2 linked regions of the Homo sapiens genome follow. The protein of the gene in region 2 interacts with the protein of the main gene of each other region in a biochemical or structural test. Each region holds a gene or a part of one and is shown on either strand. Other genes may lie near its edges.

Region 1 (5,644 bases), on a different chromosome or scaffold from region 2:
AGTTATTGCTGCCTTCAAAGTTATGCAAACAAAAAATGTATGGCAGGGGATTTTTTTAAAAAGTTTATCACAAAAATGTACATATAGCTCATGGGAAAGTGTGCATGTTTTGAATAAAATTCTGCTCTGAGCTCATCAAGTATAACTGTACATACAGCATTCCATTTCTCCCTTAAAGTGACATACCATTGACTGAATTTCAAGTAAGTATCTTCATGAAGGACAATATTAATTTAGAGTTTATTTTCCTTTTATTTAGTGCCACTGGATATCTTTCCTCTCTGGACTGATATAGTTACAAAATTGCTTTTTCTAAGATTTCGAATTTTGCTTAACACAACTTATTCATGGTAAAATATTTGCCCTGTGCGATTATTCCCTTTTATTAAAAAAATCACATTTTAAAGTGTTTTTATGTTCATGTCCAATCTCACCCATCAGGATCACACACGAAAATGTACTCCTGATTTGAAAGGAGTGTGTTTGGCACCAAACAACCTCTAACTTAAAGACTCTTTTCTTCTAAAAGAAATGTCTAATTTGGGCTGAAATTTCATAAATAATAAACTAGTGTATCAATTGAAGTTCATGAATTTTCCAAGTATACACTTATATAGAAATCATCTATATAAGCTCAAATAAAGGCAAAAAGAACCCATATAGATGGAAAACATATCCAGGAACTAATTTAAATGCATTCTTAGTTATGTTCAAGTTCTTTTAAGTAGTGAAATGAAGAAATTGCTATAAACAATGCTGGGTAGGGCCCTAAAAGAACCCACATTCTAGTGATTTTCCATCTTCCTGGAATTGTCAATCCTATTGATGCTTACTTTATTTTGTGACTTTCACTTTCTCCAAATCCCCAATAAAACAAAATTGGGCTCTGCCACAAATGATGTTTTGTGTGTTTTTTTTAAAAATATAACTAATTTTTAAAAATTGTAAAAAAGGATGTTTTACCACATATCTCAAAAAATCTTAGATTCCTGGGATGTCTTTCAAAATGTGGGCTTTGCTGTGTTGCTTTGCCCACACCAGCCCACCTTCCCATGTGTGTGCATAGACAATAACTCAAATGAAAGAGAGACAACAAAATGAAAAACAGGATTTCTGGGGAAGGCAGGGACATCCGTTCAAATTTTCTGTTAAAATGGAGGAAGAGTGGATAATTGATAATCCACAGAAGGTGGATCTCTTTTTCTCTGTCTTTTGGGGTCAGCTGAAGATGGATCAGCTCAGAGCTTTAGTTCAAGAAGATTTTACTTAATCATAAGGATTATGCAAACCCTTCCCAAAGGGAATTATGGGATCCTTGTTTTTGGAATCTGAGTTGAGATGCTTTCTGGGAAGCAAAACTAGACCCGCCCCCCGCCTCACCTGCCTCTCAGATTCCTGCCTTACTGGAACTCCTAGATCCGAGGTTCTATTGCCTGAATTATGAGAGTTATTCTGCAGTTAGCATGAGGGCTTATAGTCAGGGCTTGGTTGTCATTTCTGCCCTCTCCTCTTTCTCTTATTTGCACACTTTAATCTCTGTAGGCTTCACACTTCCTAAAATAAGACAGGACTGTTATGGAAATGTTGTGGAATTGTTGGATACTGCATTTAAATACTTTGTAAGTAGATGTGTCTTCGGGGGGGCTCTTGACCTGGCGTTAGATTTCTTTTGCAATTGCTTTTGAACCCTGCCACAGAAGGGTACATAGTTTAGAAAAATCGCTTCCTCTCTCGTGTGGCAGTTTTCCAGCTGCAAAATTAATTATCCACTTACTTTCACCACAAGGTGCTGTAAGGGTCAGGGATCTTGAGTTGGTGAAGCACTTCACCATGTTGATCTGAAAGTTATTCTGTCACAGGATATTTTTTTTTTTCCAAGTTGTCTTACTGTCCAGGTTATTTACAAACTGAACTTTTTAAGACCATGTTTGCATTTCAGGCTTGTCTTTCCTTTTAACACTTCATATATATATATATATATATATATATATATATATATATATATATGAAATGGTTGTTTAGAGAAGAAATAAAATAATAGGTAATGGAGGCTTTTACTTGGAGAATCATTTACATTTCATTCATTCGGCACTTAATATGTGTCAAGCATTCACTGCTTTAGGTGCTGGGATATAAAGATGAATAGATTGCTCCTCTCAAAGCTCTCACCAGTCAAAGCAGGTGACTGAACTAATGAATATACAGTGGGAGGGGTAAATAAAGTACCAGAGACCATCAGGAAAGGAGTAAATATTTCTAATTATCAAAGAATGGCCAAGATAAGGAAAGGGGCTTTCTTGAGAGGGAACACTATTTAAAAAAAAAAAGGCACAGAGATCTCAAAGTACATGAAAAATAACTTGATTTGGATTCATTTATCTTTTAAAAATATAAGCAAATGACTGTTTAAAAATCACATGTGAAACTTCCAGATATAATGTATGAATAGACATTTTTCTGTATGAACAGATACAATTTCTCCCTCTTTTCATCCTTTTTTCCCCCTTCTTTGAAATTCCAGTCTGATTTTATCACTAGGGACGTGGTGTAATCTCTCTCTTTCCTCTTCTCCTTCCTTCTTTTCCTCTTCCCCCTCTTCTCCCCTCTTCTCCCTCCCCCTTTCCTTCTTCTGCAACTGCAGTCAGATGTTATCGTCGGGCATGATGTAATATCTCTGCCACTTAGAATTGGGTTCATAGTCTCCTGGACAGCTCTTTAACCAATTTCCAAAGAAATAAAAACTGGACTGTCAAGTTATTCTTTCAGCTGTAGGCTGCAATCTGGATCTCTCTGCATTTTAACCTCTTCCCAATCTGGCTGTTTTTTTAGGTAATGGGACTCCTGACCAACCACGGTGGGGTACCTCATCAGCCCCAGACTGATTACGCGCTCTCCCCTCTCACCGGGGGTCTGGAACCTACCACCACGGTGTCGGCCAGCTGCAGTCAGAGACTAGACCATATGAAGAGCTTGGACAGTCTGCCAACATCTCAGTCCTACTGTCCACCCACCTATAGCACCACAGGCTACAGTATGGACCCTGTCACAGGCTACCAATATGGGCAGTATGGACAAAGTAAGCCTTGGACTTTTTAGGGGGCAATTTCTCCTGGAAGGGAGATAAACTCAACTCTTCCTTAAGAAAGGTGAATTAGAGGCAAGATTAAGCCACACATGCCGGTATCAATTTTTTTTTTTTTTTGCAAAGCCAGCTGACTGTTCCAGCAGGGGCTTCCTTGTGTAATTATTTTCTTAACTGATGTCAACAACATCTTGCGGTTATTAATTGTTGAGACGTGAAACCTGATTGCCACTAGGTAAAACACAAGGGTTGGCCAAAATGAAATAATCCCTGACATTAGAAACACATGTTCTTAATGAGGTCAGCTCCAGGATCATATGGGGGATAATCCCAGGGACACAAAGTTGTGTCAAACTTGTCTCAGGAATAAAAATATTAGTCTCAAGCCTTTGATAGCACGGTATTAAATATGACATTGTCAGCCTGTAGCTGATCTTGCCCCTGACTGTGAATTGTCCCAGCATGACCTAAAAAGCTGCGTGTGTTTCCTTACAGGTGCCTTTCATTATCTCAAGCCAGATATCGCGTAAGTGAACTGTCCACTTGGAGCTAAAACTGGCCCTGTTTCTGGTCTTCGCAGCCTAGATATGAAGAATCTGCTCTGAAAACAAAAAAAAATTACCCTTTTGTTGGGGGGGGTGGGGCAGTGGTCCCAATAGGAGACAAAGGAGAGTGATTGATTTTCTTCCTCCAATAGTTGGTTTCAAATCCTTTTGAACACGTTCGACAAAAGCAGTGGAGAAGAGGAAGACCTGGAGCAATAAAAGACAAATGCAACATTTTAAGGCAATGGTTTCACATGGTTACATATCAAAACATCCCAATTCTTTAGTGCTGATCATCGAGGAGCTAGAACATTCCATTTGCTTGTGTGCGTGCGTGCGTGTGTGTGTGTGTGTGTGTATTGAGATTTACCCAGACTGGTTTGGGCAAGCAGACTGTTCTAAAATATAATAGAATACCCTAAAGTATAACATGTCGATGTTCGATGCTGATACTTCTACAACTTTAAAACTGCTCATTTCATGAAGCAAGAATGGAGGAATCCTTGACTCTTACACACTGGAAATTGAAATAAAGATAAATGCAACCATTTTTAGGAAGCTAGACTAGCTGTAAAGGACCTCCTAAATAAATTATTTGTTACTGTATCCTCATTTGTAATCTAGTTGTCAATAAATGGCCCGGACATGTCTTGCTAACAGGATATGGGCTACCAGGAAGAAGGACTTGTTTCCCTTTCCTGTGTGGGGAGAGGTGTGTGACGTTTTTCCAGTTCACATTTATTTGGTAGCCCACCTGGGTTGGAGGAAGGGCACGGTGGAGAGAAAGTGACATGCATTCACATATCTGCTTATCAGTGTGCAATACTGTGTACCTCATGGATGCTTTGGCAATGCCCAAGGCGATATAAGCAAAATCAGAAGTATATTTTTGCAGGTGCTTTTATTTTCACAGCCCATAATTCATAGTGATAGAGTGCAGTGATGTTTGCCATTTGCTGGACAACCAACACCCGGGTTGCTCCTTTGATTAGAGACCAGATCAGATAATTATGCTTTTAAACTGATTACGTTTACATTCTTCTCTTTTCTATGAAAGGCAGGGCAAGAACAGAAGTGTTCACATGGCTCTCATGTACTTTTAAATTATACAATGATATCCAATATTAAAAGATTATAGGAACTGAGGTTTACATACGTTTGTGTGGTGACATTTTAGAATGTCAATAAATTTGCTTTTTGAGATGTTGAGAGGAACAAGAAGGTGGAAGGCAGTGTTATTTATTTCTTTCTATTCTTGGAACCACGAATGAGGTAGGCACAAATACATTCCTTTTAGAGTTAAGAACTATGACGTAGCGAGTTAGTGAGACTAGACATAGTACCGAATTTAGTTCATGCATTGGTCTTAGAGGGTGATGGAACAAGAGAAGTACTATCTTTGTGTTGCAGCCTCAACCAACAACAATGTGTTGTAAAAATGTCTTTCATGTAAAAAGTGCAGTAAATATTTACTATTTATAATGAATAAACAGTTATGAAAACTTGCCCACTACTGCTTTTTTGGGGGAACTGGTGAATGTAGTATAAATGAAAACTTGGCAATGGGGAGCCCAATGTACATGAACTTCACTTCTGGTGGACCCTTTCTATGAGAGTATTCTGTCGACAAATAAGGTTACACAACCCACAGTTGTATTCTCTTGAAGAAGCTTGGTTGAACACACTTTTAAGGATTGAAGTTTATGTTTTTATCAGTGTAGCATCTAGAAAAACCCTTCAGTTTAGCTTCCTTCATCTTTCTTTGGTTCTCTCAGAGTTATCCAGTCCCTTTACTGTCACTTAGAGATATGTTTTCCCTGGAGTACCCGGTTCCATCTTCATCTCTAAGTCATCTCCACGGAAATTTTTATTTAAAACTCTCATATTTTATTTATTTTATTTTAGCAGCCTACTTTATTCTTCATGAAAGGTATTACTGCGTACTTCATTCATTCTTCCTTTCTTCCTTCTCCTTCCCTCCCTCTCCTGATCCTTTCTCCTCTCCCTCCCTCCTTCC
Region 2 (7,032 bases):
TCTTTGCACACTGGCCCCTTCTATTCCCTACAATGTCTCCTTATTTAGCTGTATTTTCTCTGCATGTCATTCCCAAATCATTGTTCCAGACCACAAACTAATGATAAAGATAAAGAAGACCCATCACACAGGATCTTAGAGCAGGAAGGGGTCTTAGCTTAGCTGTGTAATGTGAGTGACTTGCCAAGAGTCAGCTGATGACGCTGTTGGTGGCAAAGCCTGGATGGGAACCCTTTCCTTCCCTAAGCCAGTACTCCTGCTCCAGGCCACCCAGAACGGACCTCCCACTGAGATGCTCCCCTGAGTCCCTAAGCCTGGTGTGTTTGCCCAACAGGCCTCCAAAGGGCCAGAAGAAGTATTTTTTTTTAGATGCTGCTTCTGAAGGGTTCAGAAAGGAACCAGGAGAAAGGCAGGTATAGAGAAAGATGAATATTATCACTTTCAACAGATGAGGTACTGTGCCAAGTTTTTCCATATACTATTCCAAAGTGCTGTCTCATAAATCAGAAAAGCTAGTCAGAAAAGACAGTGTGGTGGTAATAGCATGGGCTCAGATTCACCGTCTGGGTAGAATCTAACCTCTTCCACTACTAACCTGCAAAATGGGTCTAATAAGTTTCTACTTCATGGAATGATTATGAGGATTAAACTAGATAATCCATCTAAAGTTCTATTATGTGGTGCACATAATAAGTACTTAGTAAATATTAGATATCATTCCCATTAATAAGGTAGGTTACTATTTCATTAACAAGGTAGGTACGATAATCTCCTTTTTCCAGATTAAAGAACTGGGATTCAGAACTGTAATGTACATTTTCAGGAAAACCAATATCTACAGTGAACCTGCTCTAAGCCAGGCTGGGCTTAATCATGAATACTTGCAATAATCCTGTGATGTAAGCATCATTAACTCCACTTTATAAGTGAAGAAATGGAGGCTGGAGACAGGGGAATGCATGGCCAGGAAATCTGTTACTGTTATCACTAATTTTTGAGATGCTATCGTGCTGGCTAACTTGTCGAAACATTAAACTGGTATATTTCTCAGCAATGGTGATTCAAATGCGTGAAAAAAAACATCTGTGCAATTTGTTTTCAATTATATTTACAAGGTTAAAGTATTCTGAGAAATATTATTGTCAACAGTACACTTATTTGTCCCAAACAGAATAAACTCTGAAAGAGATGCTATGCATTTACATATGAGATGTGTCAAAATGTCGTAATGTTTGCAAATGACACTTGCAATCCCCACACAGGAGTAATCTCCTGTAGATGTCCCATCACCCATCCAGGCCTGGAGAAAGGCACCACTCATTACCTCCAATTTATGGTGTTTATCTGAATTTACACCACTAACTACAAGGTGGTCTTGATAAATCACATATTCTCAAATCCTGTGAATGCACTCATGAGTGTGCATTGAGTTCTCTTTGCCTCTCACAGAAGCGCTCATTTCCATTCCTCAGAGGGACAGGAAACACCCCCAATCTATTTATCTAAAAGCTGTCCAAGTCCATCCACTTTGGGGCAAGTAATAGACTCAGATGGTATGAAAAATAAGTATTTTTCATCAAAGTAAAGCAGTTCTAATGGCAGAAGTCAAAGCTGCAGCTGCTGCTGGGAAGTATGTGCCAAGACTCTACAAAGACAGATAGTTGGCTAAATCTGATTTAATATTTAAGACCTCTCTAAGAAAATGTGATAGGTCTAATCCTTCAGGGTTGCACACAGCTAGGTAAAACAATACTCATAGCTGATGTTTACTGAGTATTAACTGAACAGCAGGCACTGATCCAAGTGCTTTTACATGGATTATCCCACTTAATCCAAATAATGATACGAGGTATGGACCATCAGTAAACCCACTTTTCAAACAGGAAAACTGAGGCTTAAAGATGTTCTGCAAAATGTCCAGAAAAGGCACATGTATAGAGACAAGAACCTCTATTCAGCATTGCCCCAGATTCACCTGCTGGTTCACTCCAGATGTTGGTATGGTATTATGTCCAAGCATTCAGAATGCCTATACCCTTCCCTACAAGTCATCTCTCTTCTCAAGGGATTCCCAAGGCTGAATGAAATATCAGTGTTTTGTTTTATTAATAGCCACCTCCTGTAATCGCCATACAGCAATCTGGTGAAAGACAGAGTGAGAGCATAAAGCTTGGCTTATACCTGGAGACAGAAGGGAGGCATCTTACTCCTTCCTCTCCCCTCCTTCCACCAAATCTGAACCTTGAGACCAGCATTCTCGCATGGCCTCATACCCACAGGCTTATCCTAAGACAGATGCGAGGAGAGGGAAAAACTGAGACTCTAACTTATCTACCCAGTTGCACACTCAAGGGAGACAGAAAAGAAGGAGCTGGCCTTGGTCTATGGTGGGAAGTAGAATGCCACAGACGGGTGTCCTGGAGACATGGTGGCTCTGCCCACAAGTAAATTTCAGCTCCATAAGTGACCAGGGCTCAAGAATGATTCTATCAATCACGCTGGTAATCAGAAGGATGACAGAAAGGAGCAGAACAGTTTTACAATCCTGAAGTAATGGGGCTCATGATGCTAATTGGCTTATTATCCCATCTGGGGAAATAGGAGTAGGGATTTCACATCTATAGAGTGAAATCTCTTCTCCTGTGAGATGGATCTGTGTTTCTCTCTAAAGGCCAAACTTTCTCTCAGCCCAGCCTGCCCAAATGCAGTTTTTCCAGTCATGCTGGTCTTTGAGAATTTTAGTAGGTCAAGAGCACAGGGAAGAACAGTCCCTGGGAAAGTACTGTCTGCTCCTCACCAAACTCTTTGATTAGAAGCCCTATTCAAGGACAAAAACACAATTTAGGCTGCCCCTTCTCACAGTGCCAGATATTTAGATTTAAAAACTTAATAAGTCAAGCCATCAGCCAGAGCTTTTCAGTCCAACATTTATTTTCTCTAAATTGAAGCTGTGAGCCTCTGCGCACTGGTTCCACACTCTATGGGCAGTGGTTAATGGCATGGTAACGAAGCCTGAAGTTCCTGCAAGGGCCTGACTTGCAGATCACTGGAAGAGCTTTTCTAAGTGACCCATGGCCCTTCTCTCAGGGAAACTTCTCAGCACTGCTCAGGGGACCACATTTACTCCCAAGTGACCACTAACTTAAACATCAGGGAGAGGGAGCCCTAAAATGGATGTTGCTTTTGTCTTAAGACATTTTTTGGTCTCACTTTCATCTTTCAATTTCCATTGCATCTCATCTCTAGGGTATTCTCCTGCCTCTGACTTTAGCTCTCAATGTCAGAACTGCCTCAGCACCATGCTAGATGCTCCCCATCCACCAGTGGTTCTCAAAGTGTGATTCCCGGACCAGTAGCCTCAGCATCATTCAGCAGCTGGTTAGAAATATAATGCATAAAAAAGAAGAGTATCTATCTATCTATCTATACACATACATACATGAACATAGAACTTATTCATTGATGAGAACGTGGATCACATTCATTGATGAGTGTGATTAGTATATATACACACACACATATACATGTGTATATATTCATATATACTATATGTGTGTGTATATATATACACATATAGTATTTTCCACATATATATATACATACGTGTGTGTGTGTGTGTGTGTGTGTGTGTCTCAGTTTCCTCATTTGCAAAACCAGGATACTACTTACCTTTCAGAGTTGTTGAGACGATTGAATGAAATGATACATGGCAGAATGGTTCTCAAACTTCAGTGTGTATTAGAATCTCAAACTTGAGCATGCATTGAGTGTGCATTAGAATATATATGCACACACACACATGCTTGTGTATATACACATATATGTGTATATATGTATACATGTATATATGTGTATATATATACATATATACACACACAAGCATGTGTGTGTATATATATTCTAATGCACACTCAATGCATGCTTTTGTGTGTGTACATATATATATCCAAATGCACACTCAATGCATGCTCAAATTTGAGATTCCAATACACACTCAAGTTTGAGAACAATTCTGCCATGTTATCATTTCGTTCAATCCTCTCAACAACCCTGAAAGGTAAGTATTATCCAGGTTTTGCAAATGAGGAAACTGAGATTTCAAAATGAAAAAGTAACTGATCAATATCACCTGGCCAGTAAGTAGGGCCTGGCCCCTGGCCACTCTTCAATCTCATATCCACTCCAGTCCTGTGGGCCTCCTGGCTCCTCCTGGAAAATGAGGCAAGCTCAGCCTGGCTGAGGGACTAGAACCCAGTGTTCCCTCTATCTCAGTGGCTTAAAAGCCAGCATGTTCATATGAATCTCCTGAGAAGCCTAAATATATATATACATATATACACACACACACACACACACACACACATTCATAATACACACACACACACGTGTATAAAACGGTTTTATTATGAAAGATTTCAAACATACACGAAAGTAGAGAGGACAAAATAATTAACCCCTATGTGAAGGGGGAGCCTCTCAAAAGGACCACCAAAGCCCCACCCTAGACCAGTTAAACCTGAATCCCTAAGGTAGGGCTTGGTATGGTTTGTAAAGCTGTCTCGAGTGATTCCAATGTGCTTGAACTTTGAGAAACACTCTCAGATTCATTTCTCCTCCAGATATTTGCATTATTCAAATCGGCCAAATGTTACTTCCACAGAGGGCCTTTCTGGACTCCCTTATCTGAAACACATCACATCACCCCTGGCTACCCTGCCATGCCATCTCTCTATCCTTTTATCTCGCTTTATTTTCTTTATAACATTTTCTTTAAAGTACTTTATAGCATTTTCCACTGGACATTTCATCATATACTATGGGCTTATTCTCATCAATGAATATGATCCATGTTCAAGAAGCTCATTCATTGAAGCAGCAGCACCATGTTCCTTCTTCACCACTTATCCCCAGGGTCTATGAAGACAGTAGCACATGGGAGGCAGTTGATGAATATCTCCCAAATGCTTAAATGAATGATAGAGGAACAGAGCTGAGACTCTCACACAGGACTATCTGACTCCAAAATCCATGCTTTTCCCACAATACCCATGGCAGCCCTGGTCTAGTTTTGCTTTAGCCTCCGGAAACAGAATGTAGTTCTTGTATGGAAGCAAGTTGTGTATTTGGTACTGAGTTTATCATAGTAGACTGTTCACATTAGTTATTAGTTATGAGGTCTCATGTGGCTCGCTCAACAACTCTGGATCTTATTTCCATTTGTAAAGTAAGCCCATTTTTGCCTATCTTCCACATCTCTTTAGAAGGATAAGTGAAAACTTATATGACAGCATTTATAATTTGCAGCATCAAATAAAGTTATTATCATTACAACATGGAGAAGAAATAAGAGAGGAAGGAAATAGAGTAGGCAAAGAAAGAAGAAGTAGAGGAAAAAGATAATGGTGTTGGACAGCATGGCTTAGAAGAAACTTTCCAGTCCAGAATTTTGTGATTTAAGAGAAAAATAGAAAACAAAAAAAAATTATCAAAAGCTGTACATCAAAATTGCCCACTTGTCCAAGAACAGGATTCAGAATAATTTGTGTCTACTAAAAAAAAGGACACAATTCTATTATTTTTATTTCAAAATACAATTTGCTACATTGAAATCTCTTTCAAGAGCCTCTACTCTTCTTTCAGTCTTTTAAAAACATGTAACAGTAACTTTGTTACAGCATCATTTAAATCATGGTCACAATTTTCTTTTTCTCTATTCTTGTTTCAAATCTTGCTCAAGAGCCCCAAGAAGCCACATAGCTTTGGCCTTAGGTTGGCCACCTCTATGCTGAGTGTGGGAAGCAAAGTGAAGGGTCGTCACAACCAGCTCGTACCACACAGTGGCAAGCATGCTATGCACAATCGGGTCCTTAAAGGACCATCAGTCCAACCGACGCCCATAACTTCATAACTAAGCCACTAGAATCTTCAGGGGAGCAACTCTATCTCAGATCCATTTCCATAGATGGAAATCTGACCCATTGCAGATCCTCAATAAAGGCTCAATGAAGTATATAAACAAATTGTCTCTGGTCTCCTTTCTGAATACAGTACTTGTGATATTATGAGCTATATATACAAAATGTATACATATACATACATATGTATATGTGTGTATATAAATATATAATTTACATATGTGTGTATACATATGTGTGGCGGCGTGTGTGTATTGGACATAGAGTATACACACACACCCACATACATACTCCAGTACTGTACATCCAATACACACACGCGCGCACACAGGTTTCTATCCACTGTTCCTGGTTCATAACTCTCATAGCCCTCGTTACAGTCTTTTGTACGTTGGTGCACTTTAGGCCTCAGGAGTTGAGCCAAGAGTTGCAAGAACTTCATTCCAGGGAGGGTCCTGCCTCATACCCTGGAAGAAGGAATGTCGCATGGAGAGGCCAGAAGAATCTGGACAGGCCTTCTTGGGTTTCCCCAATCAGTCTATTAATATGAGATCAGACCCTTTCTGTCCAGTCATATTTCAACACTGTTGTCCATGCTTCAATCATGCCTAGCCAATGAAGTTTCCATAAAGGACCCAAGAGGAGGGGGTTCAGAGAGTTTCTGGATAGCTGAACTCATAGAGGTTCCTGGAGGGTGATGCATCCAAGGAGGGCATGGAAGTTCCAAGATCCTTCCCCCATATCTCATCTTATGCATCTGTATACTTTGTAGTATCCTTTATAATAAACCAGTAAATGAAAGCAAGTGTTTCCCTGAGTTCTGTCAGCCTCTCTAGTAAATTAATTGAATCCAAGGAGGGGGTCATGGGATCCCCTATTTACAGCCAGTTGGTCAGAAGCACAGGTAAAACAACCTGGGGCTTTCAACTGGCATTACAAGTGGCAGGGAAGAGGGGGTTAATCTTGTGGGACTGGGACCTCAACCTACGGGATCTGACACTATTTCCAGGTAGGTAGTGTCAACACTGAACAGGAGGACACCTAGCTGACGTCCACCGCAAAACTGACTGCTTACTTGGTGTTTGGAGAGAAATCCTCAGACATTTGGTCACAGGAG

The links.
Region 1: the proteins of PCTP (region 2) and PAX3 form a complex in vitro, tested with the Homo sapiens proteins (one study listed by BioGRID).

What each region holds. Positions count from the first base shown.
Region 1 is NC_000002.12:222,199,376-222,205,019, reverse strand, and holds the end of PAX3 (paired box protein Pax-3), read left to right. Parts: intron 1-2,829; coding exon 2,830-3,076; coding exon of another isoform or gene 3,077-3,096; exon of another isoform or gene 3,097-3,307; intron 3,308-3,577; coding exon 3,578-3,612; coding exon of another isoform or gene 3,613-3,616; 3' UTR 3,617-3,779; coding exon of another isoform or gene 3,780-3,846; 3' UTR 3,847-5,133; downstream 5,134-5,644. UniProt on the Homo sapiens protein: Transcription factor that may regulate cell proliferation, migration and apoptosis. Involved in neural development and myogenesis. Transcriptional activator of MITF, acting synergistically with SOX10.
Region 2 is NC_000017.11:55,754,047-55,761,078, reverse strand, and holds part of PCTP (phosphatidylcholine transfer protein), read right to left. Parts: exon of another isoform or gene 6,991-7,032; intron 1-6,990. UniProt on the Homo sapiens protein: Catalyzes the transfer of phosphatidylcholine between membranes. Binds a single lipid molecule.